Homo sapiens: one gene and its partner. The main gene of each other region encodes a partner of the protein of the gene in region 2 in a complex. Each region holds a gene or a part of one and is shown on either strand. Other genes may lie near its edges. The genes, in order: CASK and LIN7A.

The links.
Region 1: LIN7A (region 2) and CASK share a complex: the UniProt entries of both Homo sapiens proteins name them as parts of the brain-specific heterotrimeric complex.

What each region holds. Positions count from the first base shown.
Region 1 is NC_000023.11:41,506,562-41,522,047, reverse strand, and holds the end of CASK (peripheral plasma membrane protein CASK), read left to right. Parts: intron 1-1,451; coding exon 1,452-1,628; 3' UTR 1,629-7,114; downstream 7,115-15,486. UniProt on the Homo sapiens protein: Multidomain scaffolding Mg(2+)-independent protein kinase that catalyzes the phosphotransfer from ATP to proteins such as NRXN1, and plays a role in synaptic transmembrane protein anchoring and ion channel trafficking.
Region 2 is NC_000012.12:80,934,935-80,951,160, forward strand, and holds the start of LIN7A (protein lin-7 homolog A), read right to left. Parts: upstream 3,001-16,226; 5' UTR 2,789-3,000; coding exon 2,707-2,788; intron 900-2,706; exon of another isoform or gene 802-899; intron 1-801. UniProt on the Homo sapiens protein: Plays a role in establishing and maintaining the asymmetric distribution of channels and receptors at the plasma membrane of polarized cells.

The DNA of each region.
Region 1 (15,486 bases), on a different chromosome or scaffold from region 2:
TTATTTTCTCTGGAGATCTGTCTCTGTCACCCAGGGCCCCAATTTCCTGGAAGAATTGCTCAGTCTCTTGATTTTAGATTTAATACTTGTAAAACCCTATAATGACTGGCACTAGTCAGACAAGTGCTTGTTCTTTTGACAGCATTTATTAAGCACTTACTATGTGTAAGGCACTATGCCTAATGCTGGGGCACAGCAATTACAGGGCACACAAGACAAGTTTATGCCCTAGCTGGAGACATAGCCACTAATCAAATAAAGAGGTATTTCGTTATCTCTATGTATATTTAAGACTCAGCCCAAGAGCTCACCCACCTAGTGTTTGGCAGGTAGGGGGTGGTTAATTTGACTCACAAAGTTCCCTAGTGTCAAGGTTGAACTTGCCCTTTGGGAGTTCAGCATGACAAATATGACTTGCGAAGATATAGAGGCAGACTTCTTTCTGGTGGCTCTTAAGAGACCCCTGTCTTGAAAGAACTGCCACTCTGTAGCAGAAGCTATACTTGCATGACAAAGCTGGGACCCTAAACTCCCTCCTCCTGTTGGATCCCTCTTACAAGAGTTCTTAAAATCTGTGGCAAGCTGCAGCTTAGGGAACATCCTTTGTTGCAGCAAACCTCCCTAGAGTTCAGTACTCCCTAGAGTTCTCTTCCTTCTGTTTTTTTCATAAGAGATATGAGGACCTACGAACAGTGACATTTGTCTAGCCACTTCTAATGCAGACCAATTTGGGGGGATTCATCAGATGCCAGGTGCTGTTTATTGGGGAAACAGCCTTATTCCAGCCATTATTTGTAACACTCAAAGATCTTTTGCCTCTGGCATCAGCTGCTATTGAGTGAGGGCCATTATATGTAATTGAATTCCTAGAACGTGTGGCACCTTTAAGTAGAAGAGGAAAAAATACAACTTAATTTGTCATCCAAGGGCAGGGACTTGTTGGTGCAAACACAGCTGGGCCCTGAGGCCTGGCTCCAGTGAGTGTGGAGGACCAAGGGGACGGGGGCAAAGAGCTCCAGCCTTGCCACCGTAGCCCTCTCGCCAATTGGGAGAGTGGCTTGAGGCTAGGGCGGGGGGCTTCCTGCTGGCCTGTTTGGGCCACCATAGCCACTGTAACCCACACCTGGCATGGCCCTACCAAGCCTGACTCTGGGGACAGGCACAGCTAGGCCTGAGTGGGGGTGGCATGTTTCCTGAAGAGTATCTGTTTTCTCTGGTTCGTCTGCTTTGTCATGGACCCTCTGTTGCATGTTGAGCAATCACTGTCTCCTCTGTCATGGAGCGGACTTGGCCTCATGCTGGCATATGGCATATCAGGGTCTGGCCTTGACTGTTTCTGACACTGGGATGAACAAAAATGTGAAAAGAGAACGAATCCAACTGATTTCTCTCTTCTGTTTGCTTTTCCCTCCTCTCATGCCCACCCCTACCTCCATCTCATCACCATTTAGGATGAATCTCTTCAGCGTCTGCAGAAGGAGTCTGACATCTTACAGAGAACATATGCACACTACTTCGATCTCACAATTATCAACAATGAAATTGATGAGACAATCAGACATCTGGAGGAAGCTGTTGAGCTCGTGTGCACAGCCCCACAGTGGGTCCCTGTCTCCTGGGTCTATTAGGCCTCTCCCCAGATATCTGAGCATAACTGGGAGCACCTCATTTGTGGAAAAGCCTCTTTGTTATCGGCCTTGTGTCAGCAGGTCATGGTCCCTAGAGACTACCTAGTTGTAGTGTGACCTACATTTATAATTATTGTCATGTCCGAATAGATAGGAGGAGAAAAACAATTACACACTAATTTAAAGAGACAGTATCTTTTTTAATCAGTTCTCCTAAACTTTAATAAAATGTATCTTTAAATGTATGTATTATTCAATCCTTTGGAATGTTATATTTTTGGAAATCATAGCTTTTTATTTCCAAGGCCCCTAAAAACTGCACAAAATAGATGCTGCTTTCTATAATCTATTTTAATAATAATAAACAATGATTCTGTTACCTTGACTGGGGGTGGAACACTACATTCTTTTTAGAGTCTGATTTTATGGATTGGAATATTGGGATATCTTTCTTTCCTTTATTTATTTGAAATAATTAGTGTAGTGATTACAAAACAGTCATAAATTTTTAAAGGCCTTTTTTCTCTCTTTTTTTTTTTTTAGAATAGTATTTTTTTTTAAGTCCTTTATGTAACATCCAGATAATGTGATACTGTCTCTTTGAAGCACCCTGTAAACCTTTTAGAGATTTGAAGTTGGGTCTTGACTCTTAATGCATGTGGACAGTCGCGAGCGTTTATGCTGTCGGTGTGTCTGTGTTGGACAAAACAATCTGTAATCTACAGCAAAGTACATTCTACATTCCGTTCATGGGGCACACCCAGGGGAATAAGAATAAAATGCTATTATGACTAAGTTGTAAACCTATGCACATCCCTTGCATTTTGGGCAACTTTATAAAAAAAAAGAAACTGATTTTTATTAATAATAATCATGTAGTGAAATGTGTTTGTAATTTTGTCTCAATTTAATTTGTTGTAAGGTGGGGTGGGGGGAATTGCTGGTTTCACCATTTCAGATCTGTGTTGTCTAAGAGTATTAACGTTTTAATTAAGCAAAGAAATGATTTTTAATCTGTATGTAATTGTTTTAAAGCACCCATTTTAAGAGAAAATACTGTGCAATGAAGAAACCAGTTTAGGCATTTGCTATAAACTGAAATATTCCAAAAGAATCATCTATAACAGCCCTGTAAATTCCTTTAAAATGATAACTAACAGGACAGTTTGACCAATTTTTTTTAAATATACTTCCTTTTATGTGTTCAATAATTAAATGCCTTTGGGTCCTTCATTTCATTATAGATTTGTTCAGGCTTCCAAGCTGATAATCTTTACAATTGTATAATTTGTTAGATGCTCATTGAACCTTTGAAGGCCCAGGAGTGAGTATCAGTTGGCAGGGTGACAAAGTAGCCTGCCAGAGCACAGCTGGACCACGTCTGACTCGCACAGAGCCATGCGCCCAAGGGCCACGGGTGTACTGGAGGCCACCTGTGGTCTCTCCTTCCTCTTGCTGTATCCCTTGGCACAGGGGAATCATCTGTCCTTGTTGCTTTAGAGACATTAACCATCTCATAACTCTTCCATGAAGTCACATTCTTCCAATACAGGAGATTCGGGCTGGGGTTCTCAGACTCTTTGCCAGAGGTCAGTAGAATGTTTTTCATTAGCATGTGAGGGTGTGAAGTGCTTATATTAACCTGTGATCCTTGAAAACATACCATCATTTTTTGCTTCTTGTAGGTTAGATGGCCTTGTCACTTTGTGCCTTGGCAGGATGTGCAGGGTGTGTTCTGAGCTGAACAGCTCCTCTTAAAGGACCAAACAGAGAAGGCATTAGTATACTTCTTTTACATTGTCAACACCATACCCGCCTCCGCCCCCCACCGCCTATTATTAAATGGTGGCGATTTTTTTTTTTCTGATGTTGTTCTTTGCCAGTGACCAGATGAGTCTGCAACTTACTAACAAGGTATTGAGTGAACTACTTCTGTATGGGCCCCACAGTGGGGTGACCAAGCCACCAAACCAGAGATAAGCTCAACAGTGGTCTCACACTAGATAGAGAGAGAAACCTTCAAAGAGTTGGGTAGGGCTGTGTTAGAACTGATTCGAATCTGATAGATGCCAAGGCCAGACAGTCGTTCCTGGTATGGTACTGACCACAATTTCGGGCTCTTAGTGTGAAGGTGCGCACTCTACCTCTTTTCTGGTGAAGCACAAAGACAACTACAACTAACACATGGGAAACAGAAACTTCCCTCCCTCTAGTGGAAACCCCCACGCCCCCACTTGCCCTTTGAGCCCACATCTCCAGAGATGCTGATGATGCCTGTCTTAAGCCATCTGCCATATTTATAAAGGTGGATTAAGCAGAGGAGGAGAAAAGCAATGCCAACTTAAATGTCTGTGGCCCCACAATTCACAAGCACTGTAGCACTCATCCTCAGTGGCTTTATACGTCCTCTGAGAAGCACACAGGCAGGCATCATTCTTGCCATCATTCCGATGGTGAAATCCCTGCATGCAGAACTCATTGACTTCTCAAAGATGTTACCTGTTCCATTCCACTAATACATGTCTTCTCTAAAGCAGTGTCTTTATGACCTAGCTGCATATACTTACATTTCTGAATTCAGAGTAATTTCAGTACATTGCTGCTGCTGCTGCTGCTGCTGCTGCTGCTGCTGCTGCTGCTGCTGCTGCTACTGCTACATTACAATTGTCCACTAAGCAATCAGAGAAAATTGCTAAAAGCTTCTTTACTGCTTCCATTCCATCAGCAGAACCTTTTTTTTTCTTTCTTTCTTTTAAAGACCAGAATGAATGTTTAGAGTACTAAATCTTATTAGTGGTCAATTGAAGTATTGGAGAGCCACATTTTGAAGGTTCTCTCCCCCACCCAACTCCATTCCCCACAGCAAGAAAGGGAGTGTTTTTATATGTTGAATTCTTTGTTAAAAAGATGAAATGTCCTGATTTTCCAGTCACAAGACAGTAATTACTTTGCACATACAGCATATCCCATTTTAATGCTAAAAAGGGAAATGTCACTCAATTTAATTCATCTGGAAGTTTCCCAGTGTCAAGATAACATTGTAGCCTTTTTAAATGCAATTAAATGTATCTCTTGTCAGGTGAGATGATTTAAAATCTTTGCTCAGAGAGGAAAACAAATGGTTGACCTACTTCTTGCTATTTGCATTCAGAAGGCATCGTCCCAGCCCATCCTATTGGTGGCAGAATATCTAAAGATGTCGCAAAGTCCCCCACTGCAGTAGAAATGCAGGAGGTGTTCCTGTTCCCCGTCCAATTCCTTCTTAGGCTGCTAGAGACAGCCAGTGGGCCAAGCCTTCCCCTGTGCTCCAGGCAGGCCTGGGCTGCAGCTACTGTTACCTTTTTACAGCCTTTGATCTGATCGCTGCAGAGTTCTTTTGTTTTTAAATCACTTGTATTTGTCTCTTCATTAAGGCTTCAAGTTTATTTCTTGAAAAAGTTTAGTCAATTGAACCACCCTCCAGGAAGATTCCCAGCGTGGAAACTGCCCCTGAAAAACAAGGCAGCCCAAAGCCAGCTCTCTTTTGTCCCCCACTGATGTCATGTCCTTTTTTTTTTTCATTTCAGGCCAGTTTCTTAACTTGGGGCAAAGAGAATGTGTTGCTAAAGCTACCAAGAAAACTGCTTGATTAACAAATTCTTAATAGAAATGCCTCCCACACTGTCTCTTTGAAAAGAGAAGGCACCTTGGAATCGGCATTCCAAAACCAAGCTCCTTGTCATCCTCATCCCTCCTCCTTCTTGCTTCCTATTATCAAACTCGTGTGTGTTTCTTGTTTTCTCAGAACTGAACACAGCCTCCTAATTCCATCCTCTTGACTAGGGCTTACAATACTGAGAGCGATTACAGGCTGTAATAAGTTAAAGGTCCCTGAGCGTGGCTTTCTTGTTCTGCGCCTCTAATTAATTCTTCTATTAAAAGATGCTTTCCTTCTCACTGCAGCTTACAGAAAGGCTACAAGCTTTAATCACAGATCATTTCATTTGCCAGAGCCTTTCCTTTTCTAACTCCTTTAGAAATAAGATTTCCCTCTCTGTTTGGAATCTCTGGATACAGGACTCTCCTCCAAGCTCATGGCTTGATTGGCTTTGCCTGTGCACACACACATCAGTTTGCCTTAAACTTGGAGCTATGGGGAGTCCCAGATTTTCCAGCTTAGTGGGTGAAGTTTAGCTGTCACCTACATCCAGGAAGTGGGGGAAAAGGGAAAAAAAGAGGATATTCACCACCATGTTCCCATCCGGTCTTTCCCCTGCCTTGCTTTGTGCAGCAGGTGGGCAGACAGAGCCCACAGAAACAGAAGTAGAAAGAGGGCCGCACCATCTCTGGGGCCAGCACTCCTAAGTCTTAGCTCTTTGTGGGAATAGAAAATCCTGAGCTCCCACCACCTCTCGTCTGACCCTCCATCAACTCCCTCGAACCTGTGCAAATGGACTGAGCAAAAGAAAATGGAAAGAGATGTTTGTCACCACACAGGAGACCTCCTTTCTGGCCCCAAGCACAACTCCATCTCTGCGTATGCTCAGAAACTCAGAATTTAGCTGCTACTTATGTGTTAGCTCCATTCTCTCTGGTGTGTGACTGAGAGAACACGCCAGTGTTCTTACTGACAGAGGCTTAGGGGTGACCCTCTCTGGACCCAGAGGAAGTACAACCTCTGTAGCGAGAATTGTCCTTGGGAACAGAAACAGGCATTCCTCCACAGTGAGTGGCTCCCCCTATTTTTTTTTTATTTGGAAGAGACCAAGAATTGGGGGAATTGATTTCCAGTCTTAGCTGTTTCCCGGAATGTCATCTGTGCAGGCAGGTAGGCGGCTGCCGGGTGCAGCAGGCAGCGTGACTGATGTGAAGGCCGCCCAATCCTCACGTGCTAAGACCCGAGTATCGTGTTTAATTGCAGTGTAGGCACGTCGCCATTCAAACTCAGTTCTGGGGTGGTTTTGCATAAAGTTTTGCCAACGTGTTCTTTTTTCTGTATGTATTATTGCCTTTTTATAAAAGGTGTTGAAGTATTGTCTCAGTGATAAAAAGAGAGAGATGTTAATGGTTGTTGTATATTTCACCGTATCCAATTGTAAGTATTTGCAGGGTACAGCAGAGCCTTAGCTTGCAAGAGCGTTTGTGCAGGAGGTGTCCCTCAACACCCAGGAGCTGAAGGGATTGGAAAGGTTTGGATTCTTTGTAAATGTCCTGCTTTTCTTTCTCTCTGTGTGTATCTATTTACATGCCTTAGCACACGCCCTCCCATCCTGATCCCTTTGCCCTGTCGCCGGAACAACCAGAATGCTGGTGCGCTGCCGGCACAGTACAAGTTGATGAAACCCTAATCAGTTATCTTGTGTGACAGGGGAAGAAGAGAAACTCCATAGTATTCCTTGTAGAATATACATACCTGTAGGATGCTGTGTAATGGGAAACCATAGAATTGGGCTTTTGTCATTTCAAAGTTGGAGAAATGTATGAATAAAATGTATAAAACATGAAAAGGCAGTTGTCTCCTCAGATTGCAGGCCAAACAGCTTGGGGACAAACAACAGAGGGTTAAAAGAAGAGGGATGGCCTGATTTCTAAAGGCCTCTGCAGAGTTCATCCACACAGTTAGGCCTCAGACACCTTCCCACAATGGTTGGGGTGGGGTGGGGGTGTTGCAGAGGGACAGCTCCTGGCCCTGTAAAGGAGCACGACCCAGGCTCCTGGTGCCCATCCTGCAGGTTTCAGTCTTCAGCCATGGCTGTTAACAGACGGCATCCTGCAAGCAGTTCCAGCTCAGTTGCTTGCATTTGGATGCAGGCTTAAAATAGCTTCATCTTAAAAAAAAAAGAAAAAAGAAAAAGTCTAAGTTGTGACATCTCCTAGAAATAGAAGTCTAAATTGATTTCGGTGGTGTAGGTGCCACAGCATGGAAAATGTGGCCCTTGGTTGACATTTGCATCAAGAGCCGTGGGAGGACGCCTGCTCCAGGACTGCCGCTCCGCCCAGTGCCTTTGTGATTTCATGGTTTGATTTGGTCTCTGGCTGGAGTCTGGGACATGCTTCCTGGCGTGCCTCACTAACCTGGTTTACACACGATTCCTTCCCTGCCCTTGCCCTACGCTTTGCCCAAGCAAGGAACCATGGTGGCTTCAGAGACAACACTTGTATGTGTCACACACACCCTAGAAAGAGCCCAGGCCTGAATGAGCTTACCTGGCTCACTTTCAGAAGACACATACGAAGGAAACATAAACTACCAGTGATTATTTGCTTTACTCAAATAAATATCACGCTACAAAAATTGTATAGAAGAGTTTAGGCCACATTCAGACCCAAAATTTGAGCCCCTGGCCTTTTAGTTCAGAAAATCCTGTTACCTTTGTACAGACTTCTTACCCTAGATATACAGAGGACGGAAAGCAAAATGCTACCATTAAGCTCATTTTTTGAACTTCATGGTATTTAAAACACATCCAACATGGTAATATTAAGCTGGTCGAAAAATATAAACATGTCTTTTCTGTGTTTTTGCCCAATTTGCTATAACATGATAAACTGAAGAAATAACACTAGGGATCATTCCATGAACCGCTATGAACAGCACATCATGCAGAAAGAATGCAATGAGATTGGTGCAGGGTAATAGACAGAGTTCAAGGTCACTGAAGGTTGCAAGTCCCATGAAAGGTCAGTGTTGTAGTGCAAGTAAGCCACCCAGCCACTAAAGGAAGGGATGCTCTGGGAGAGAATGTTCCAGAAAGTGGTATGTGACTTTAACAACAAGTGAGCACACACACAAGGCATGGGGCCTGCAGATAAAATCCCATGGCTGTGGCACTGTCGGAAATACTGCACCCACCACACGTATTCCCTAATCTCCTCACCCATCATTACCTTTGAAGCCAGGTGCAGTGGCTGTCTCCTGTAATCCCAGCACTTTGGGAGGCCAAGGCGGGTGGATCACTTGAGGTCAGGAGTTCGAGACCAGCCTGGCCAACATGGTGAAACCCCGTCTCTACTAAAAATACAAACATTAGCTGGGCGTGGTGGCGCGTGCCTGTAATCCCAACCACTCAGGAGGCTGAAGCAGGAGAATCCCTTGAACCCGGGAGGCAGAGGTTGCAGTGAGCCGAGATTGTGCCACTGCACTCCAGCCTGGGTGACAGAGCAAGACTCCATCTCAAAAAAAAATTAAAAAATAAACCTTTCAGGCGGTGGTGCCCAGAAATGTTTTTGCCATAGATGCATTCTTAGGCAGGATCTTGAAAAGCTTCAATCTACTGCTGTTGCCCTCTTCGCTCCTCCAAAGGCAGCTTTATAACCCTCCCCCCATGGCCACTTGCCCTGCAGAGAATCTGGCTCCTTTCTGCCACCAGAATGGTCTGATGAACAACTTGAGAGTGACAGAGGGGGCAGCCTGCTGGGACCTCAAAAGTGGCTTCAGGCCGGGCACAGTGGCTCATGCCTGTAATCCCAGCACTTTGGAAGGCCAAGGCGGGCGGATCACCTGCGGTCAGGAGTTTGAGACCAGCCTGGCTAACATGGAGAAACCCTGTCTCTACTAAAAATGCAAAATTAGCCGGGTGTGGTGGCACATGCCTGTGATCCCAGCTACTCAGGAGGCTGAGGCAGGGGAATCGCTTGAACCCGGGAGGCGGAGGTTGCAGTGAGCGGAGATTGCACCACTGCACTCCAGCCTGGGTGACAAGAGGGAAACTCAGTCTCAAAAAAAAAAAAAAAAAAAAAAAAAGTGGCTTCGGGCCTGCAGGATGTTAAACTGAGGCCGGAGATGGGGAAATGGAGACCATGTACAAAGCAGGTGGCAGCAGCTTAGCCACACAGATCAACAGCTTACCACAGAATTTCCCTCAGAACTTTCTGGGGGTGGTGGAAATGTTCATTTCTTGTTTTCAGTGGTGGTTGCATGGGTGTATACAATGGTCAAAACACATCAGACTGAACACCTAGGATCTGTGCATTCTATTTTCTGTAAAATATGTCTCAGTTACAAAAAAGAAACAAGGAAAACCATGATCATCTTTGCAGCTGCCAAAAAAAAATCACTTCACAAAATTCAACACCCAGTTCTAATTTAAAAACAAACAAAAAACCCTTAAAAATAAGATAGGAAATATTCTTAGCATATACAGAATAACTGTTTCAACCCACAGCCAACATAATCCACCTAGAAGTGACAGAACAAAAGCAGTAAAATTGCCATTATTTAAAAATTAAATAACACGTGATCATCATAGAATGATTAGAAAATATGGATAAACAAACAAAAAAAAGGGAGATTCAACCACATTCTGCTATGCAGAGCCAACTGCTATAAACATATCTATGTATATCTGTCAGGCTAGCAGGCTAGTATAAATTTATGTATGTGTGTGTGTGTGTGTGTGTGTGTGTGTGTGTGTGTATATATATATGTTTTGCTTTTTGGTTTTTTTTTTCATTTTTGAGACAGGTTCTCACTCTGTTGCCCAGGCTGGAGTGCAGTAGCATAATCACAGCTCACTGTAGCCTCAACCTCCTGGACTTAAGTGACCCTCCCACCCCAGCCTCCCCAGTAGCTGGGACTACAGGCCTGTGCCACCACACCCAGCTAATTTTTGTATTTTTTGTAGAGATGGGGTTTCACCATGTCACCCAGGCTGGTCTCAAACTCCTGGGCTCAAGTAGTCTTCCCACCTGGGCCCCCCAAAGTGCTGGGATTACAGATGTGAGCCACACCTGGCCCTATACATATTTTTAATACAGTAAGAAAGTCATACTAAACACACTGTTCTATTACATAACATATCTTCCTCCATCATAATTATTTACTATTGCTTTTATTTATTTATCTTTTTAGGGTCCCACTCTGTCACCGAGTCTGCAGTGCAGTGGTGTGATCACAGCTCACTACAGCCTCAAACTCGGGCTCAAGGCATCCTCCCACCTCATCACCCCATGTAGCTGGGACTACAGGCACCACCATGCCCGGCTAATTTTTGTATTTTGTTATTATAGAGACGAGGTTTTGCCATGTTGCCCAGGCTGGTCTCAAACTCCTGGGCTCAAGCGATCTGCCAGTCTCAGACTCCCAAAATGCTACTATTGCTTTTAAAGCATTTCTCAACAACAGAACAGAGTATAACCATTGGAAAAGACACAAAATTGTCCATATTTGCTAATAATATCATTGTATACCTTGAAACACAAAAAAGGACAACCAGACAACAAGTAGCTGAGTTACAAAGCAGCTACTCGGGAGGCTGAGACAGAAAAATCACTTGAGCCCAGGAGGTGGAGGTTTCAGTGAGCTGAGATTGCGCCATTGCACTCCAGCCTGGGTGACAGAGCAAGACCCTGTCTCAAAAAATAAATAATAAATAAATAATAAAGAGCAGATACAAAAACACCCAGAAATCAATAGCATTCTTGTATATTCACAGTAAAGTTAGAAAATTAAATGGGGAAAGGATGCCATTCTCAAATGCAACAAGTGTTTTCAAACTAACAAATCCATGGGATCGATATGAGAAAAGGGCAAAGCTGCACTGAGAATATAAAAGATGCAAATAAACAGAGACATGTTTTTGGATGAAAGAATTAAATGTTTTAATGGCATCAGTTCTTTCCAAATTAATGTAGGCTTAATATAATACCAAATCAAATGCCACACAATGATTTTTCTGGGCCTTTATAAAATGACTGTTCATTGGCCGGGTGCGGTGGCTCACACCTGTAATCCCAGCACGTTGGGAGGCCGAGGCAGGCAGATCACGAGGTCAGGAGTTCGAGACCAGCCTGGCCAACGTGGTGAAACCCCATCTCTACTTAAAAAAAATACAAAAATAAGCCGGGTGTGGTGGGGCACACCTGTAATTCCAGCTGCTCAGGAGGCTGAGACAGGAGAATTGCTTGAACCCAGGTGGGGGAGGTTGCAGTTAGCCGAGATTGCACCACTGCACTCCAGCCTGGGTGACAGAGCAAGACTCGGTCTCAAAAAAAAAAAAAAAAAAAATTATATATATATATATATATATATATATATATATATATATATATATGTATACCAAAATTAGTTTCAGCCCAATTAAAGAGTTAAATATTAAAATTCAGTGCTAGAAAATGAAAACAAATAGAATGAGTAGTCAGTAAAACTCTGGAAGAGGGTAACTTTTTAACCTTATGCCGGAGAAAAAAGTCAGAAAGCAATTGAAAGATTTGACCCCATGAAACCATTACAGCATTTTTTTCTTTTCTTTTTTTTTGAGATGGAGTTTTGCTCTTGTTGCCCAGGCTGGAGTGCAGTGGCGTGATCTCGGCTCACTGCAACCTCCACCTTGTGGTTTCATGCAATTCTCCCACCTCAGCCTCCAGAGTAGCTGGGATTACAGGTGCCCACCATCACACCCGGCTAATTTTTGTATTTTTGTATTTTTAGTAGAGACGGGGTTTCACTATGTTGGCTAGGAATCTGATCTCAAACTCCTGACCTGGTGATCCGCCCACCTCGGCCTCCCAAAATGCTGGGATTACAGGCATAAGCCACCACGCCCGGCCAAAACCATTACAGCTTTGATATGAAAACTTGTAGACCACAAACAGAAAAGAAAGGCATTTTACAGCAAATATAATACACAAAGAGTTAATATATTTATTATGCAATGAAGACATAAAGTGGTTAAAAATGCTAACATTCCAACAAATGAACAAAGGACATGATGAACATTGCACAGACTATACAGAGAGCTACTATTAAAAACATTGAAAAATATCTCAATGATCAAGAAAATGTAAGTGACACAGTGGCTCGCGCCTGTAATTCTAGTACTTTGGGCAGCTGAGGCAGGTGAATTGCTTGAGCCCAGGAGTTCGAGACCAGCCTGGGCAACATGTCAAAACCCCATCTCTACAAAAAGTACAAAAATTAGCCAGGCGTGGTGGCATGCGCCTGTAGTCCCAGCTACTCAGAAGGCTGAGGCGGGAGGATCACCTGAACCCGGGAAGTGGAGGTTGCAGTGAGCTGAGATCCTGCCACTGCACTCCAGCCTGGGTGACAGAATGAGACTCCGTCTCAAAATAAATAAGTAAATTTAAAAAAAATTAAAATAATAAAGGCAAACAGTACATGGTGGCACACACCTGTGGTCCCAGCTACTCAGAAGGCTGAGGCAGGAGGATCACTTGAGCCCAGGAGGTCGAGGCTGTAGAGAGCCATGATTGCGCCACTGCACTCCAGCCTGGGTGACAACAAAACCCTGTCTCTAAATAAATAAATAAAAATAAAGGCAATCAAGCTGGGTGTGGTGGCTCACGCCTGTAATCCCAGCTAGACAGGAGGATCACTTGAGGCCAGGAGTTTGAGACCAGCCTGGGCGACATAGCAAACCCTGATTAAAAAATTTTTGTAAAAAGGCAATCAGTACCATTGACTGAGCCGTCACTCTGATGTTCCGGTCACTGAGTGCTTTGCATGCCTCAGCGTACCTCCACCCTGAGTCCTCTGACCTGAGGGCTCTTAACCATAAATATTACTAAATATCCCCAAATTTAAACAGTGCTTTATGATAGGATAATCAATGAAGTTTTTCTTTATTTTACAAGTCTACTTGTAATATTTTATTTATTTATTATTATTATTTATTTATTTATTTTGAAACAGAGTCTGACTCTGTCACCCAGGCTGGAGTGCAGTGGTGTGATCTCAGCTCACTGCAACCTCCGCCTCCTGGGTTCAAGTGATTCTCCTGCCTCAGCCTCCCGAGTAGCTGGGATTACAGGCGCCTGTCACTACGCCTGGCTAATTTTTGTATTTTTGGTAGAGGTGGGGTTTTGCAATGTTGGCCAGGCCGATATTGAATTCCTGGACTCAGGTGATCTGCCCGCCTTGGCCTCCCAAAGGGCTGGGATTACAGACCTGAGCCACCGTGCCCAGCCTCTGTACAGTTTTTAAAGTGAATCAACCTGAGCACTTCTTTTATGGCTGCCTGATGGGAGCGTAGCAGAGAGCATGGCCTGGGAATGGCTGACGCCAGCCACTCTCCGGGTCCGCTTTCACCATGTCACTAGGCCTGGCTGCCACCATCAGGAGCCTGGGAACATTTCTGCTTCCCTGCGAGGACACCCTTCTCTAGCCAGCCAGACCTGAGAACTGGGGGCTCACAGAGTGGCAAAGAGGAAAAGGGACGAAGTCAAAGGACACCTCATAGCAAGACATGAAATTCAGTCCGAATAATTTATTCATCCCAATAAGTGCTTTGGATTTCTGCCTAAGAACTCAAGCTGGCAATTTTCAGCTAAGTGAGCTACACAGCTTGTTCATCTAAACAAACTGCAGTGGCAGAGTTGTACTAGGCTGAAAAGCATAAACATCTTAAGGGCAGAGTTGTCCAATCAGAGAACAAAATATATTAGTGAGCTTAAGTGAAGTAGTGAACACAGTGTGCAGGGCCCTAGGAACAGAATAGAGATCCCAGAAACAGAGCCTGGGCGGATGAAAAACTGAAGATGACAAAGATGGGACTTCAGGCCGGGCACGGTGGCTCACGCCTGTAATCCCAGCACTTTGAGAGGCCAAGGCAGGCAGATCACCTGAAGTCAGGAGTTTGAGACCAGCCTGGCCAACGTGGTGAAACCCCGTCTCTACTAAAAACACAAAAAATTAGCTGGGCGTGGTGGTACACGCCTGTAATCCCAGCTACTCGGGAGGCCGAGACAGGAGAATCGCTTGAACCCAGGAGGCTGAGGTTGCATTGAGCTGAGATCGCATTATTGCACTCCAGAGCGAGAATTCATCTCAAAAAAAGAAAAGAAAAAGATGGGACTTCAGTGTAGTGGTGAAATCATGAACTCTTCAAGAATTATTCATATGGAAAAAATAAAATTAGATCCCTACCTCATGATACATAAAAAATAAAATTTTAGATGGCTGAAAGGTCTGTGAAAATCTTAAAATATTACATACACATACACACATACACATATACACACACATATTGGGCTATATATATATACATATATACATATACACATATATACATATATATACACATATATACATATATACACATATATATACATATATATACATATATACACACATATACATATATACATATATACACACATATACATATATACATATATACACACATATATATACATATATACATATATACACACATATATACATATATACACACATATATACACACATATATACATATATAATATATATACATATATACACATATATACATATATACACATATATACATATATATACACATATATACATATATACACATATATACATATATACACATATATATACATATATACACATATATACATATATACACACATATATATACACATATATATACACGTATATATACATATATACATATATATACATATATATACACAAAATGTATAAGTTATGAAAGAAAAGGATTGATAAAGTTGAATCTCTTGAAATTGAAAACTGAAAAGTTTATTTGCAAAAATCTGCATAAACAAGCTAGGTGCTCCCAGCACTTTGGGAGGCTGTGGCAGGAGAATGGCCTGAGTCCAGGAGTTTGAGGCTGTAGTGAACTATAGATTGCACCACTGCACTCCAGCCATGGCCACAGAGTGAGACCCTGTCTCTTAACCAAAAAAAAAAAAAAATTCCCATAAACAAACTAAAAAGATAAGCCACAGGCCTGGAGACACTAGCAGCACATGGAACTGCCATCCAGAACTTATAAAGAACTTCAAAAATTCACTTTTCTGGTGTGGTGGTACACGCCTGTAATCCCAGCTACTCGGGAGGCTCAGGCAGGAGGATCGCTTGAGCCCAGGAGTTCAAGACCCACCTGAGTGACATAGCAATACTCCATCTCCAAAA
Region 2 (16,226 bases):
TGACGGCAATCCATCAAGTGTATAGGGGAAAGCTAGGTTGAGAATCTCTGGCCTATGTTATCACTATCATCCTTTCCATGGTTAAAATACTGTGAATCTATGAAATGCACCTCAGTTCACTAGGAAATCACTATATTTTAACATTGCTTAAGTTACTGCTATCCTGAGTTTACTTACACCAACTTAACATTATTTTTTTATTGTACTGTGAGTCAGGGACTATAGCAGACACTGAGAATTCAAAGATGAATTTAGAAATGGTCTCTTCCCTCACGGAGTTCTATCCAATAGGGATAGACAAATGCAACAGAGTGTGATAAATGCTTTAATGGGGCCAAAGCAGCAAGTCAATTTAGAGCGCATCAAAGGGTACCAAAGCAGCCTGGGAGAGAGGTGATCTGGAAAATCTCCCAGTAGGTGACCAAAAACTGAGTCCTAACTCTAATTAATTGAATTATAGACTGCTAAAGCTGCACAGTGTTAGAATCATCTAATTCAAACTCCTGATGTGGCACAGAGAGAATCTGATGTCCAGAGAGGCTGATGTATGCAGAGTGAGTATCAGAGTTGCAGCTAGGACCCAGATATGTAATACTGGGTTGCCTCTTTAAAAATGCACCTTTTTTGAAGGGAAATTTTTAGAACCTTTTCCTTCATCAGTTTAATAATGAAAGTAATTAATCATATTTGAATAAGATACGGAGAACAATATTTATATATATTGACTTTATGCTCAGTGGTGATGCCAATAACCCATCATCTCTTGGTTATAGATTTTCCATGAGCTGCTGATGAATTTTTTCAGACTCATCCACAGGGTAAACCTGCTTGTCTCCTGAGCTACTGCATGTACGTAATTACACTCAGAAGGACAAGTAGAGTTTGGCTGTGAACAAGAGCAAACTTTAAAAATAAATCTTAGTCCGATTAGCACCTCCTCTCATCAACCGACTGAGGCATCTAAGGGCTAAGGTAAAACCCAACATTGAAATATTTGTATTATTAGTAGTAGTGGTAGTATATAAAATGACCCAGGTATGCAATCTTCTTGGAGTTTTTGCTCCTAACATAGTCACTTGATTTGGGATGTTTAACGACTGTGATTTTGTAATGGGACAATATAAGAGCTCATTACATTAAAACATAAATACTTGGGAAGCTCATAGTTTCTGATAGCTTGCCATCTGTTTGGTTCTTACCGGCAATGGATTTATCCTGCTTAGTGCAGATGATGATATTGTGGGTAAAATCATGGATTATACAATGGATTTCTGAGGTCTTTAACTACTGTTATTAATTTTGCCAGCTTACAAATCAACATTTTCTAATATAAAATCAATTACATTTTATTTTTCAACTCTTACCCTAAGAAAGGTTGCTATGGGCACCACAGAACATCTGTTCTGGCGCCAACAGATTGCGTTAAAGTCACCCACAGTCTCTCCAAATTAAAAACCTCAAACTGAGTTCACTGGCTTTGTTACTGTACTCTCAGCAGGATGTTCTTTTGCCTTGCCCATCGTTCAGTTTAATCCTCTAGAAAGAAAATTTTTAGAGGTACATCGGACTAAATCATTTTCTTCTGAGTACACCATTTCCAAATGGCCGCCCAGGGTCCTAAATCCGGCGGCTGCGGAGAGGGACTAGAGGGTGTCCTCCTCTGCAGAGCCGTAGGACTCGAGCGCCTTCATCACTGGACGCTGGAGCCAGGAAGGAAACCCACACACTCAGGGACAGGTATAACCCCACAGGGGTGCACCAGTGAGGCCCCGATCGCAGCGGAGGACTCCATCCCTGAGCTTGTGAGGGCGTCCTGGGGAGGAAGCGAACACTTTCCCCGTTCAAGTCAGAGAGCAGGACTCACTGGGTGGCAGGTCAGAAGTTGAATTTTAACCCGACCTGCGCTTTGTCCCCGCGCCTTCCGCAGCCTGGGCGCCGCGGTGGCACCGAGCTGGGAGAGGACACGAGAGGCTGGCGCGGGAGAAGCCGAGAGTTGCTATCGACCGGGAGCTGCCGGCGGCGGGAGCAGACGCGACCCTCGCCGCTTTCGATCTCGAAGCCGCGGAGAGCCGATCTCGGCTGCTGGGGCTCGGCTCCCCGCGCTCTGCCTTGCCCTTTCGGCAGAGGGCAGCTCCCTGCCTGCTGCAGCCCCGCCACTGTGCGCCCGGCAGCCCAGGGGTGCGCCCAGCCCGCCCCCCGAGTGGCCGCCGGGACTCCAGCAGTTGGACCGACCCTCGCCCTCCGGCGCCTGGACAAACTTCCTTCCTCCCGGGCCCCTGCGCCAAGCAAGCTGACAGGCGGCTCCCTCGCCGGTCTCCTCTGGGCTCTGGCCGGGCGAGCTTGCTCTCTGCCCCTCTCCAACCCCGAGCCCCTGGCGCCTATAGCCGTCCCCGCGCAGCGGCTCCAACAAAGCCAGAGGACCGGAGACGACCCGGCGAGGGGCTGGGAGTGGCAGCGGGGACCCCAGAGCCAGAAGGAGGCGTCCCCTCGGCGGGGCGAGTACAGTGGGAAGGGGCAGCGGGAACGTAGCGGGGAGAGAAAGGGGAAGAAAGTGTTCTGTTCTCGGCGCGAACGCCTTCCTGGCTCGTCCTCGTTCCCCTTCTCCTCCTGCCTGAGCGCGTCCCATGTCCCGTTGGGAATTGGCAGGCGGGGAAGGGAGGAGGGGAGAGGGGACGCGGTGGCCTGGCGAGCGAGCCGCTCCCTTACCTCTGTCCAGGGTGAGCGGCTGGACCACTGTCAATGTCGCCATGTCTGCCGTGGGAGCCGAAGTGACGCTCGGCTTCAGCATCAGCAACCGCTCGTAGTGAGAAAAAAAGGAGGAGATTGGGGGCGGGGGTGGAGAGGGAAGACGGAAAGGAGGGGGAGGAGGGGGAAGGAAGGAAGGTGGTGGTGGTGGAGAAGAAAGCTTGGGTGGGTTGGTAGCCAGATGGAGACGCAACTGTTCCGCGGCGGCAGATCTTCAGTTGCGGTGCGGAGCTGAGCAGGTATCCGAGAGCGACTGCATCGCCGGGCTCTGGGAGGGAAGGCTCTGCCCTAGAACTTTGCTATTCCACCCCCAGGAGCGCTGGGTGGGTGTAGCTGGCGGGTTGCTTCCTTTCAACTTTCCACTCTAATAAAATGGTCAGAATATACGTGTGTGCATGCGGGTGCGTGTGTGTATAAGGGGAAGAGAGAGGATGGAAAGGGGATATGGGGAAGGGAGTGGGAGATGAGTTTTCTCAGATTAAGAGAAATTGCCAATCCAATAATCCCATCCCCTTTAGAGAGAAAATGCTTCCATTATCAGAAATGTTTGGGATGTAATTACATTTGCAGTTAATTTCTGTTGAAGTTTTTCGGAATGTTGACCTATAACGGCATATAAAGATAACTGACTAAAGGCCAGCGTTCCATCAGTAGATGTTCATTTAGGACCTGAGTATATTGCCTGGAGAAAAAAAAAAAAAAAGGCAAACCTCTTAAAAGTGCTTCAAAATAAAAAACGTGTAGGTAAGTTTCTATCGCTAAGTTTTTCTTTTTCAAGCCACTGTTAATACATTACCAATTCAGTAAATGTAGCTTAGAAACAAGTACAGTGTTCAGATTTTCTCCGAATTTTTTACATACCACATCCTGTAAACATGCCCCACTCCCCCTCACCCACCCAGCAACAAAAACTTTGCTCTTAATGTCCAAACTGATTTTGGTTGTCTATGACTACGTTTGAAAAATATGTACCTAGCACTTTTCATGTTGATTTCTAACCAGTGGTTCAGAGATGCCACTTATCGATTGATTAACATATATGCCAGGAATTGAGATAGAAGAGTTACATTGCCTTGTGCCACGCCTTGATTTAGGAGTTCAATTTAGTCTCCGACTTCCTGTAGCCTGTAATCTAGTGGGAGATGGTGTTATTAAAAACCTGACTTTAGAGTCAGTTGATCAGGATTAAATTACGAGAGCCTTCAAATACTGGCTGTGACCTCTTCGCCCCAATAAAAAGGCTACTTTCACTATCTTGTCATAGTAGGGATTCATTTCCTGACTACGAAATCAAGAAACATAAAGAAACCTTCTATAAGCTGAATAGGGGTGACTGTGGGTGCAGGATTGGAAATGACAAAGCTGCCTCCATCTTGTTTCCTGTGACAGAGCTGAATTGTTTGGGCTAACAATAAACTCTAAAAGGCAGATACTGTTTTATAGCAAAATATTTGCATATAATTGATGCCATTTTCTTCTGATTACAGATAGGATTTCTGAAGGTCTTTTTCATTTTATAGTCTACAATTGAATTTTAAAAAACAACATTTCACCAATGTGGGAAAGCCAAAGATGATTGGCCATATATAGACTTAACAGACCCTAAGAACAAACCTAAAATAGTAGTTCGATATGTTTATTTTTATTTAGTATTTAAGAAAGAATGCTGATCTTGACATTTGAGTCTTAGTCATGTACTCTTCGGAAGTCACACAATCTCTCACTGATCCTGTTTCCTCCTCTGTCATACAATGGAAATAATATCATTCAATGTCACAGAGATCTGTCATATGAGGAAACTAATTCTACCTTGCAATCTCACAGAGTTTTATGAGGGTCTAATGGAGTCATACATGTGACTGTGCTTTGAAAACAGTAAAGAATATACAAATTTATTTATACAAGCATACATCCCCTGGAACCGTGTGGTAAGCTCTGTGCTAGGTGCTAACCATGCAAAGATTAATGAGATGGCCCCCTTTCTGCCCAGTCTTGCTTGGGAGACAGTGAGCAAACCATAAGCTTCTGTGCAGTACTCTAAGCACTATTAAAAGGAAGTGCCCTCGGTGGCCAGAGGTTGCAAAAACAACTTTGGTTTTTTACCGTTATTCACATGCCCTGAATTAAGCAACAGAAAGAAGTTGAGATGAGCGCAATGATACCAGAGTGTGTTACAAGCTTTTGCACAAAGTTATTAAACCTCACTCGGTAACTGAGGATAAAAGAACATACAAATCCCTTGACTTCTAATGTAGTTATTTTACAACATCCTTTATTAGGGAATATGTATTTAAGCAGCTTGATTCATCAGCCCAAAAGTCATAAATTGTACCCATTCCAACACAAATCCCTGATTGTGGTGTCAGTGAAGGTAGAGTTTTCTTTGTCTTTTTGTTTCCTAATGCATCCTCAGGACTAAACATTTCATAGCATATTTCTGGACTTCTGCCTTGAGCTTCCTATTTGAAATTTGCTCTGTCATTCTTTCTCTGTGTTGACTCTGTAGGGTTGTTGTTGTTTTTAAATCAAGATTAAAAGAGAAATTAAAAGGAAGCATAAATCACCATAAATTCATCTGTTATTATTTTTAGTAGTGGAAAGTTCATTCCCTTTAGCTTATGTCTACACAGGTGTAGAAAATTAATAAAAATTCATTATCCATTAGAATTTGTTTTTATGAATAAATACTATCTCTCCAATAATATTTGTGAATTTCGTTTTGAGACATGCAGGGATATACTTGATCTAGTCACATGCCAGTTGCTTTGCTGTGTATTTACCTGAGAATTGTTAAAATATTTGTAATTATGCTTTTATCTTAGCTATTTGGTTACAAAATCACTACACTCTTTCATTAAATGATATGTAGAAATTTAGTTTAATGGTAACTATATTTTCATGGAGTTAACTAATTCAATAAATACTTATTGAGCACTTATATGTGCCAGACTTGGTGCTAAGTTGGTCTCTCTTTCCCTTTCTTTCCAGCCCAGAGAAGTAGGTATTTTTATGCCGTTTTGAAGATAAGTAAACTGAAGCTCACAGAGGTTACACAACTTGCTTAAGAATAGTAGCACCTGGCTTCACAATCTCCTGTGCTTTCCACTAAGAAACATCACACTTTGTTCTTTTTTTTTTTTTTTTTTTTTTTTTGAGATGGAGTCTCACTCTGTCGCACAGGCTGCAGTGCAGTGGCGCGATTTCTGCTCACTGCAACCTTCGCCCGCGGGGTTCAAGCGATTCTCCTGACTCAGCCTCCCAAATAGTTGGGCCTACAGGCGCCCGCCACCATGCCTAGCTAATTTTTGTGTTTTTTATGGAGGCGGGGCTTCACCATTATGGTCAGGCTGGCCTCGAACTCCTGACCTCAAGTGATCCGTCTCCTCAGCCTCCCAAAGTGCTGGGATTACAGGCATGAACCACCACGCTGGGCCTCATCACACTTTATTCTATGTTGTTGAAGATTTAGTGATTTCAGCCTTTTATTTCAGAATTCCAGATAAGTATATATATGGTTATAAAATCTTTTAAGAGATATATAAATATATATCTATTAAGATATATATTTTTAAGAGATATAAATATATATTATAAATATATTTTAATATAATATTAATGTATTTAATACATGTGAAATATATTTAATACATATATATGATATATTATATGTATATATACACACACACATGTCTTTTCTCTCTCTCTTTTATTTTGTGTGTGTGTTGGCTTGAGACATAGAGAGAGGAATGGATGAAGGGAAGTTAGGTCAAAGGACAAAAGAACTATGATACTGGTTCCATTATATATACATATAGGTTAATATTTAAACAACTGCCTATTTGATATATAAAATCTGTTCTTAACAAAATCATTCAAAGCTATGTTAAGGTCGGTTTCACTTAATTGAATTTTTAAAAATTATATGACAAAATCTAGAGAAGGTTTGCATAGAGCATTAGCATACCAAGGAAATGTGTTTAGTTAGATTATAAATGAAGTATAATGAGCACAGTTTCATATGAGAAAATAGCACCTTCAAACTGGAGTTCTTTCAGCCTGGGTGTTAGAAATTGTTTTTGACTGATTCAAGATAACATGTTATCTTTCTTAATTCATACAGCTTTGTCAAAACAGCACTAGATTAAGATGAAGTGCCAACCAATACTTTGAAATTTAAATGTTTATTTTTTAAAACCATCATAGAATATCTTACTATATTTAGTTTATCTTTTTTTTTTGATAACTACTTATTTGTCTGTTCATTCAACAAACACTTAATATACTGACTATATGCCAAGCACTGTACTAGGCATTGGGGTATTGCAGTGAAGAAGAAAAATTTCCTGTTCTCACTTGGCTTGTATTCTCTAAGGAAGAGAAAGTCAATAAACAAACAAGAAAGAGAGCAATTAGTGACTAAGTATTGTGCAAAGAATGAATAAATTGATGACTAAACTAGATCTAGAATAATGTCAGAATTACAAAAGACAGGGATAGGGAGAATGGCCTTATAGGGAGCAGGAGAGAAAAGCCAGGGATGAGGAAGCAGGCACAGTGTGTATTTGGGTAAAATCGGCAGTTCATTTTGGAGTATAATTAAAAAAAAAACAAGCCTAAATAGAGCTATTGAGAGTTAGGTGGTGGAAGGTAATATAATTAATGAACAGAAATACAATGAACCTTTCATTAATTTCTTTGTGCCAACCATACAATAAAATGTATGAATACAATCTATGCTAAGAAAAATATTTGTATCATAGCATCTGCATTAAAAATTACTAACTTCAGAATGAAGAGTTACTAATTCAGAGTTAGATGTTAAAATATTTCGGATGAAATTAAAATATTAAAAGTAAATTCTAAGAGTGGGCGCGGTGGCTCATGCCTGTAACCCCAGCACTTGGGGAGGCCAAGGCGGGTGGATCACCTGAGGTCGGGAGTTCGAGACCAGCCTAACCAACATGGAGAAACCCCGTCTCTACTAAAAATACAAAATTAGCCAGGCATGGTGGTGCATGCCTGTAATCCCAGCTACTCGGGAGGCTGAGGCAGGAGAATGGCTTGAACCCAGGAGGCAGAGGTTGAGGTGATCTGAGATCACGCCATTGCACTCCAGCCTGGGCAAAAAAAAAGCAAAACTATCTCAAAAAAAAAAAAAAAAAGGAAATTCTAATTATTATTATTTTTTATTTTCTCCGAAAGAAATAACACTTCTCTGTTTTCACAGTTAGAAGTTATGACTGATCTTTCAATAATGAAATTTAAATTCAAAGCTTAGTTTTTTGTTTTTCTTTATTCATCCCAAATTCATATTTACATCTCTCGCGAATGTCTAGAAATACAAGAAATATTAAACAAACTAATTTTTAAAAGTAAAGCAGTCTCTTCTCACATTTGCTCAGGAGATGATATTTCTAAACTATTAGAACTCACAAACTTTAACAATTTAAAAAACATGTTTATTACCATTGTCATCTAAACATTTTAAATATATTTAACAGTGAGTAAAAAGTTACGCTTTTGTCCAACAAATTAAGCACCTGCAATATGCTAGGCACTATTCTGTGCCTGGAACTTAGTTTTGATGAAGAGAGACAGATAAAATACAAATTAGCCATTCAATCAGATAATCTTAGATATTGATTATCATGAACATTGATGTGTTGAAGCCTATTCACACTGTATGTGAGACCCAATAATGTGCATTTTGTCTCAACATCACTTTCAGTTATATCACATTGGTATCTTTTGATTGACCATGGTGGCAGTATTTAAACCATTGGGATTGGTAAATACTCTATTCCAATTTTTTTTTCTCCCTCTAGAGAGCCACTTGTTAAACATTTACCAGCATACCACAAAGTATATGATGACAATAAAATAGGATGTTGTGATGAAATATACAGCAGGGAAAGAGGTTACTTTAGAGTGGTCAGGGAAAAAGTCACATTGTACTTAATAGAACATTTTTTAAAATAACAAATCTGCACTGCACTTGATGTGTATGTACTGACTAGGACACAGGACTAGAGATGGAGTTAGAAGTAGGAGACATTCATATTTTTATGGAGTTTACAAAACAATTGGAAAATAAAAGCATAAAATTAATTACAAAATGATATATCAATAATAAACAATACTATAAATTTATATGTGTTAAAGGGATACAGAAATAAAAAAGGTAAGTGTGGATTGTGATGACTTTCTGGAAGCAATTTATGTTGACTTCCAGAAGAAACTTAGAAATATTTACTTTCTTGCATGTAGATAGGAGAATGTTTTACCTTTGAGCAGAGAGAGCTACTCTTTGCAACTTTGAATCAGAGGATTGCTAAGTAGACCAGGAACTTCTTCTTCTTCTTCTTCTTTTTTTTTTTTTTTTTTGCATTCCTGTATGTGTTTTATTTCATTTTTATTTTTATAAAATAAAAGGAATCTAAGGAATTTCATAAAAAACTAAAGAAAGAGGAGGGGCAAAATGAATATAATAGAGTCTCAGTGTGGCTGGGGAATCTTACCATGGTGAAGGGACAACACTGCCACCTGATACTTGGAAAGGACATTAATGATAGCTAGGACTTGTTTGTTTGGGACGCTGGCTTTATTTAAAACATGGTTAAAATGGCTTTCTCTTGAGGAGCACCTCAATATCTGACTTCTATCCCTTTAAATATAGCTTAACTTACTCCTTCCACCAGCAAAATTTATCTCTAATTTTGGTAGTATGGAATTAATGAAAGATATTAGGAAGAAACAGATGAACAGGCCATCTTCAAATTCTTCACATTCTTACACTGAACAGTAATTGGGGCTAGTAACAGAATTTACTCTAAGTGTGCTGGGAAACATACATGTCAGTAATTAGCAAGTTTAAGAGCTAAATGCACAATTAGCATGGACAGCACATTCAGTAGAGAATTCCAAACTCTCTTTAGTTTTATCCTCCAATGCTCTAATTTGGAGCAAAAAATGCTATAATTTTAGTTAGTTTATATTTAAATATCATCTTTCTGGGCCCAGCCTAAAACATAGAGTGCCCTTTTCTCAAAACTAATTAGGAGGATCAAATTATGCTCCTCTAAAACTGAGTTCCTTACTCTCAACTTCTGTGGTTTCCTGGCTTTTCTGGTCCTGGAGGAACTCTTACACTCTTGCCCCTCAGGTGGGCCTTTCTGACCCTGTAATCTCCTTATACCATTCCTGAGTCTATGCCATTACACAAGGCAGATCCACTTCCTGAAATGCAGTATCTCTGAGAAGTTTCCTCTTCTAAAGTTTTCTTAATTTTGCTTATTGCTTTAAGCATTTACTCACATAATAAATCCAGTTGTGACTTTATTGTAGTCTTTTAGGGATTTAACTAGAATGGGAGCAAACGAGGCAATTGAAGATGGTTTTAACTCTATGTTAGTATCTCAAGGCTCCTGTCACCCAGAATATTGCATAGATTAATTGTGGTAAACCAACCTGAATATTTTTATTTAGACCTCAAATCAAAGAAATCCCCAAAAAGTAGAGACAGCAAGCAAATCTCTGCCATCTTTATCAAGGTAAGATAAGCAAACAAACTATTAACTCTTTTATATATCTTATATATTCTTTCCTTTACAAGAGTTTTTGTTTTGGAATTTTAAACATAAGACAATGCACATGTCAAACAATTCAAAAGGTACTGCAGAAACCCACTCAATCACAAGTCATCAATGTTAAGAAGGATTTTTTTTGTATATTTAATACCATATATTGTATGAAATATATATAACATATATTACATGTGCACATATCTTTTTAAAATTCCAAGTAGAATTCTACTGTGCACTATATTTTGCATATTTATTTATTTTATTTTAGTGATATTTTCATATCAATACATATAGATCTATATAATTCTTCTTAACTACTTCATAACATTTCATTAAAATAGCCTGTCATAGGTGTACTCTCCGGTTGTTTCTAGGCTTTTGCTATCTCAAACAGGGCTATGAATGAAAATCAGTCTTGTTTATAGCATCTTTATAAACATGAACTCCACTCAATTATGACCTTGTCATTTTGAATAATCCAGTGCTAATGTGGCCATTTTCAATTTTGTGCTTCCAGATTATAATACCTGCGATGGATTTATTCCTGCTTCATTGCATGCATTCTTTCATATGCCATTTGTTACCACTTATTTATAAAAATGTCATATTTAATTGAATTTATAAAACCTAAAGTGATTAAAAGCAAAAAACTAGTCACCATAGACTGATGACAATTTTTCCATTTGAAATACGTGGTATCATGCACTATCCAGCTGACTATTCAGTAAGTCAAGAGATCATGACAATAATTTTCTACTAAGAAACAAATGGTATATATGTCTGAAGGAAGATAAAAATTAAAAGCCTAAAAGTACCGCTTTTTGCAGTGACTCACGCCTGTAATCCCAGCATTTTGGGAGGCCAAGGCGGGCGGATCACAAGGTAAGGAGATACAGACCATCCTGGCCAACATGGTGAAACCCCGTCTCTACTAAAAATACAAAAATTAGCTGGGCCTGGTGGTGCACACCTGCAATCCCAGCTACTCAGGAGGCTGAGGCAGGAGAATTGCTTGAACAGGGGAGTCGGAGGTTGCAGTGAGCCGAGATCGCGCCACTGCACTCCAGCCTGGTGGTGACAGACCAAGACTCCAACTAGGAAAAAAAAGTATGTATTTATCATGTACCACATGATGTTTTTAAGTATATACATCACAGAATGACATGTCTAGCTAATTAACATATGTATTAACTCATCATATTATTATTATAGTGATGAGAACACTTTACATCCACTCTCTTATGTCAAGAATACATAGATTACTAACTGTAGTCATTATGCTGTACAGTAGAGCCACTTTTAGATATTTGTTTTATTGAACATTTTATTTCCATTAAATGAAATAGTATAGGAACACAATGAAAACACAGAGATGTTTAAGTACTTTCATTTTCAAATAAAATGACATGTTGATTTATTAACTGAATCAAAAAGCTAAGTACAACTTAAAACAATAAATACTATTCTTTCATTAAATTTTATTAGTAGTTAGTAATGCAAAGACTATTTTAAAAGCTAGTGCATATAGTGCTCTCTACTGGCCTTATCTTTATTACAACTACAATCAGTGTCGAGTTTGTAGTTATATGGGAACCATCATGAAAATCTTCTATACTGCAACTACAATCATCGTCAAATTTGTAGTTATGTAGGAAACATCATGATAAACTTCTGTCTCCGAAGACTAATAGTATTTTAATTTTAATTTCTTTTTGTTTTCTCCTTTAGGGGTGTGTGTGTGTATATGTATGTGCATTCAAAAACATTCATTCTTGAACTTCTATACTGAAGTCAGTTGTGAATTCTGCAAATAAGTTGCTGGCATACATCATCACAAATAATCATGTAATAAAGAGAAAATACAAAAAAGATGGATGTAGAACAATAACCGAACTGAAAACATTATGCCTTACATAAGTCAGTAGCAGCTACAATGCTTGCTTTTATTGTCTTTGGAGAAAACAAGTGAAGGCCTCCCAGGAGCAGAATGGGTGGGTGTGTATATTTAGGAAATCATGGTGGACAGTGACCACCATCATAAGCTCCTTTCTTTCTTTCCTCCAACACTCCTTACTTCCTGCACCATCTTCTAAAGACTCCAGAAATCTTACTGGTGCTTTTTTAAAGCTTAGGAAAAAATGTTGGAGTGGTTATGAAAGACATTTGCTTCAGGAGAAATAGAGAGAGAGAGAGAGATTGGTTCATTTATTCTATAATTTCATGTCTAGTTGATACTAAGTGCCACATGCTGTGCTAAGCACTAAACATTGAGCGGTTTTCAAAACCACCAATACCCAACTGGAATTATTGGTATTTGTAGGAATTATTCCTCAATAATATAAATGCAATTGAGGAAAGTACATCGTGCAATGAGAAAGCCTGTAACTGGTACATAAACCGATCTGGGATTCAGAAAGGATATCTCCAGAGCAGTAACACTTACGGTATAATGTGAAGAATGAGTATTAGATGTTAACCAAGCAAAGGTGAGGGTTGTAGAGACCATTCCAAGATCAGGTACCCTATGGGGTACCTTAGGCATGAAAGCACTTGGCCCTTTCAAAAAGCAGAGAGAAAGGTCAATGTGGCTTAAGGAAGCAGAACCAGAGAGTCTGCCAAGCTAAGGTAAAAATAACAGGTCTTGAAAGCCACATGAGGGATTTTGGATTTCATCCCAAGAGAAATGGGAAGTTATGGGAGTAGTCTTAAATAGCAGAGTAAGTGAAATAAAGAGATTTGTATTTTCTTTAATATCTGAATGCAATGTGAAGAGTGATCAGGGTGCAGGGAGCAGGTATAAATTAGAAGTGACCATTAAAGAGGTTATTCAGCAATCCAGGTAAGAAAGTACAGTGGTTTGGACTACAAAGATGGAATTGAAATTCAATGAAGTGGATGGATCCCAGAAATGCTTGAAGGATAACACCCATGGCCTTTGGTAAGATTGTATGCAAGTGGTAAAGGAGACACAATATTAAAAAGTGCCTCCTAGGCTTCTGACATGAATGAATGGATAAATGGCGGTAGGAAATATTGAAGGAAAAATTGGGAAGAAAAGTTAGTTTTCAACTTATGAAGTTTGACATCAAAGTTTGACACTTTTGAGATGTCAAAATGGTTATGTCATAATTGATGAACTATGAGTCTGTAGCTAAGAAAAGTCCTGAACTAGAGGTATAAACTTGGAAACCATTTGAATTATAATTGAAATTACTAGAGAGGAGGAAACCACACAAAGAAAGACTACTGAATGGGGAGTGTCTCACACTAAACCCTGATGAAATCCTACATTTAAAGTTCATATAAAGGAAAAGGATCCAGGAAAGGAGAAACAAGAGGTAGAAGGAAAACTAAGAGAGACTGATAACATACACAGCAAGGGAATACAAAAGAAATGGGCGCTGTGTCACAAGCGCTGCTGAGAGAATAAGAGCCAACCTGAACAAAGACCCTGGATTTAGTGATATAAGAAACAAAGCCATGTACTGAGACCAAACTAGGTCTGAGAAGAGTACAGAGTATTGAAATAAATATTGCATAGAGGTTTTTTTTGTTTTTCTTTTTTTAAGTGTGTGTGTGTGTGTGTGTGTGTGTGTGTGTGTGTGTATATATATATAAAACTTACATATATACACATATATGTGTATATATAAGTGATATACATAAGTTATATACATATAATGTGTATATATATGTTATATATATAGAAGTTATATATATAGAGAGAGTTAATAAAATGTATATATATAGAGAGAGAGAGAGAGAGAGAGAGTTAATAAAAGTGGATCGAGGTCCAGGTTTAATCAGTTTTTGAAGGATCTGCTTCACCTGAGTTGATGGATACTGCCTTGGCCATATAGGTTCTTCCATTCTCAATCCTCTTAAATGCCAAAATATGGACTCTATGAGTAGCTTTGTGAATTACTTCTTTTAATAGTCTTCAAAGTAATGCGTAATACTCTATAGTTCGGCTATTGCTTAGTGGCCTCAATTTCTCCATAGAGCACTGAACTGATTTGGAGCAGATGATCTTTCCCATCATGACTGCCTGACTGAGTAAACGTGGATGGAGGAAACCCTCATGACTCCAGGAAACTTCCTGTTCAGGATTTTCCAATGTGGCCATCATTTTTCTAAAGCAATACACTGCTAATTCTATATTGTTTTATGATTAATGTTTAGTACATGATTCTAGGCCTACTAAAATATTTGAAGCTGATTTTTACTTCTTTATTTCTATTTGATGTTACTTACTATGCACCCATATACATTGATTCTGTCTTTGGTGCACACAGAGAGAAAGCAACTCAAAAAAAAAAAAAAAAAGAAAAGAAAAGAAAGAAAGACAGCCCTGATATTGACAAATATATCATAGAACAAGTTGCATCCATCTGAACATGTTGCTCCAGAATCAAGACAAAATATGAAAACATTTTTGAGCCATAATGGAATTTGATACTCATTACGAGTATCAAATTTAACCAACAGTGGAAAATGAAATGAGACCCAGAGAGATTATATCAACTGCCCCACTATTCCTAGTTGGTGAGGAACAGGGCTGAGACTGAAGTCCAAGTTTCAACCAGTCCAGTGCCCTTTATACTACACTGTGTTATTACACTAGATTGTAAATTCCACAAGTAGAGGGACAATGTTTGTTTGCCACTGCATATTCATTGCTTGGCATTTTACTGATACCCAATAAATATTTGTGAATAAAAGAAGTAGAAGGCCAGCACAGTGGCTCACGCCTGTAATCCCAGCACTTTGGGAGGCCAAAGCAGGTGGATTGTTTGAGCCCAGGAGTTCAAGAACAGTCTGGACAACATGGTGAATCCCCGACTCTACAAAAAAAAAAAAAAATACAAAAATTAGCTCAGCATGGTGGTGCGGCCTGTAGTCCCAGCTCCTTCAGGTGGGGTTTGAGGCAGGAGGATCACTTGAACCCAGGAGGTCAAGACTGAAGTGAGCCATGATCACACCACTGCACTCCAGCCTGGGCAATAGAGCAAGATCCTGTCCCAAAATATAAATAAATACATAAATAAAAGAATGAGTAAGAGAACAATATACTGCCCAGCAAATAATCTCCATTTAAAATACATTTTACAATGGAAAATCAGTTCAACTACAGTTATTAACTGCTCACTTTGTACAAGATGTTTTATCTACTATGTTCTATGGAGATTTACAAGAAAAAAATAAATAAAATGTGGCCCTTGCCCTACAGGAACTTAATATTTATCACAATTCTCTGCAAAACAGGGTAGGACATGGTAAGCACCACCATATATAAGAGATATGAACACAGTATTACATGGAACATGGAAAGCTTCATGAATATGGTGGTATTTATGCTGGATCTTTTAAAACAGAAGAGTTTTTAGGTGGAGGTAGGATTGAAAAACATTTCAGTTGAACTAAACAGAATGTCTAAATGTACACTCAGGAAATGATGGTATGTGTTTTATTATTGAAACAGTCTACTTGTCTGGAACATGGGAGACATGAAGGAAAGTGGAAACCTGTGAAAAGTAGAAAGAAGCTGGTAGAAAAGGGAAAAGAAAGATACCACAGGGGGCTCTGAGAGTTACCTTAAGGAGCTTAAGATTCATTCAGTCTAAAGCTTTTTGAGCAGGAAGGTGACAGGAGGTCCTTCTTGCCAGTGTATTAAAACTTATTATAGAAAAATGATGATGAATTTTAAAAAGGTATAATTACAGAATGTCAAACAAAATTATCCACATGAACTAATGATATTCTATGTTAATATGAAGAGAAGAGATTCATTCTCAGGTCATGGAGACAGGCCTTCACACCACACTACAGCTTGACTCATTGGCTGGATGGCCCTCCATACAATTTTCTTCAATGTTCGCTATGGCAGAAATGAAAAAA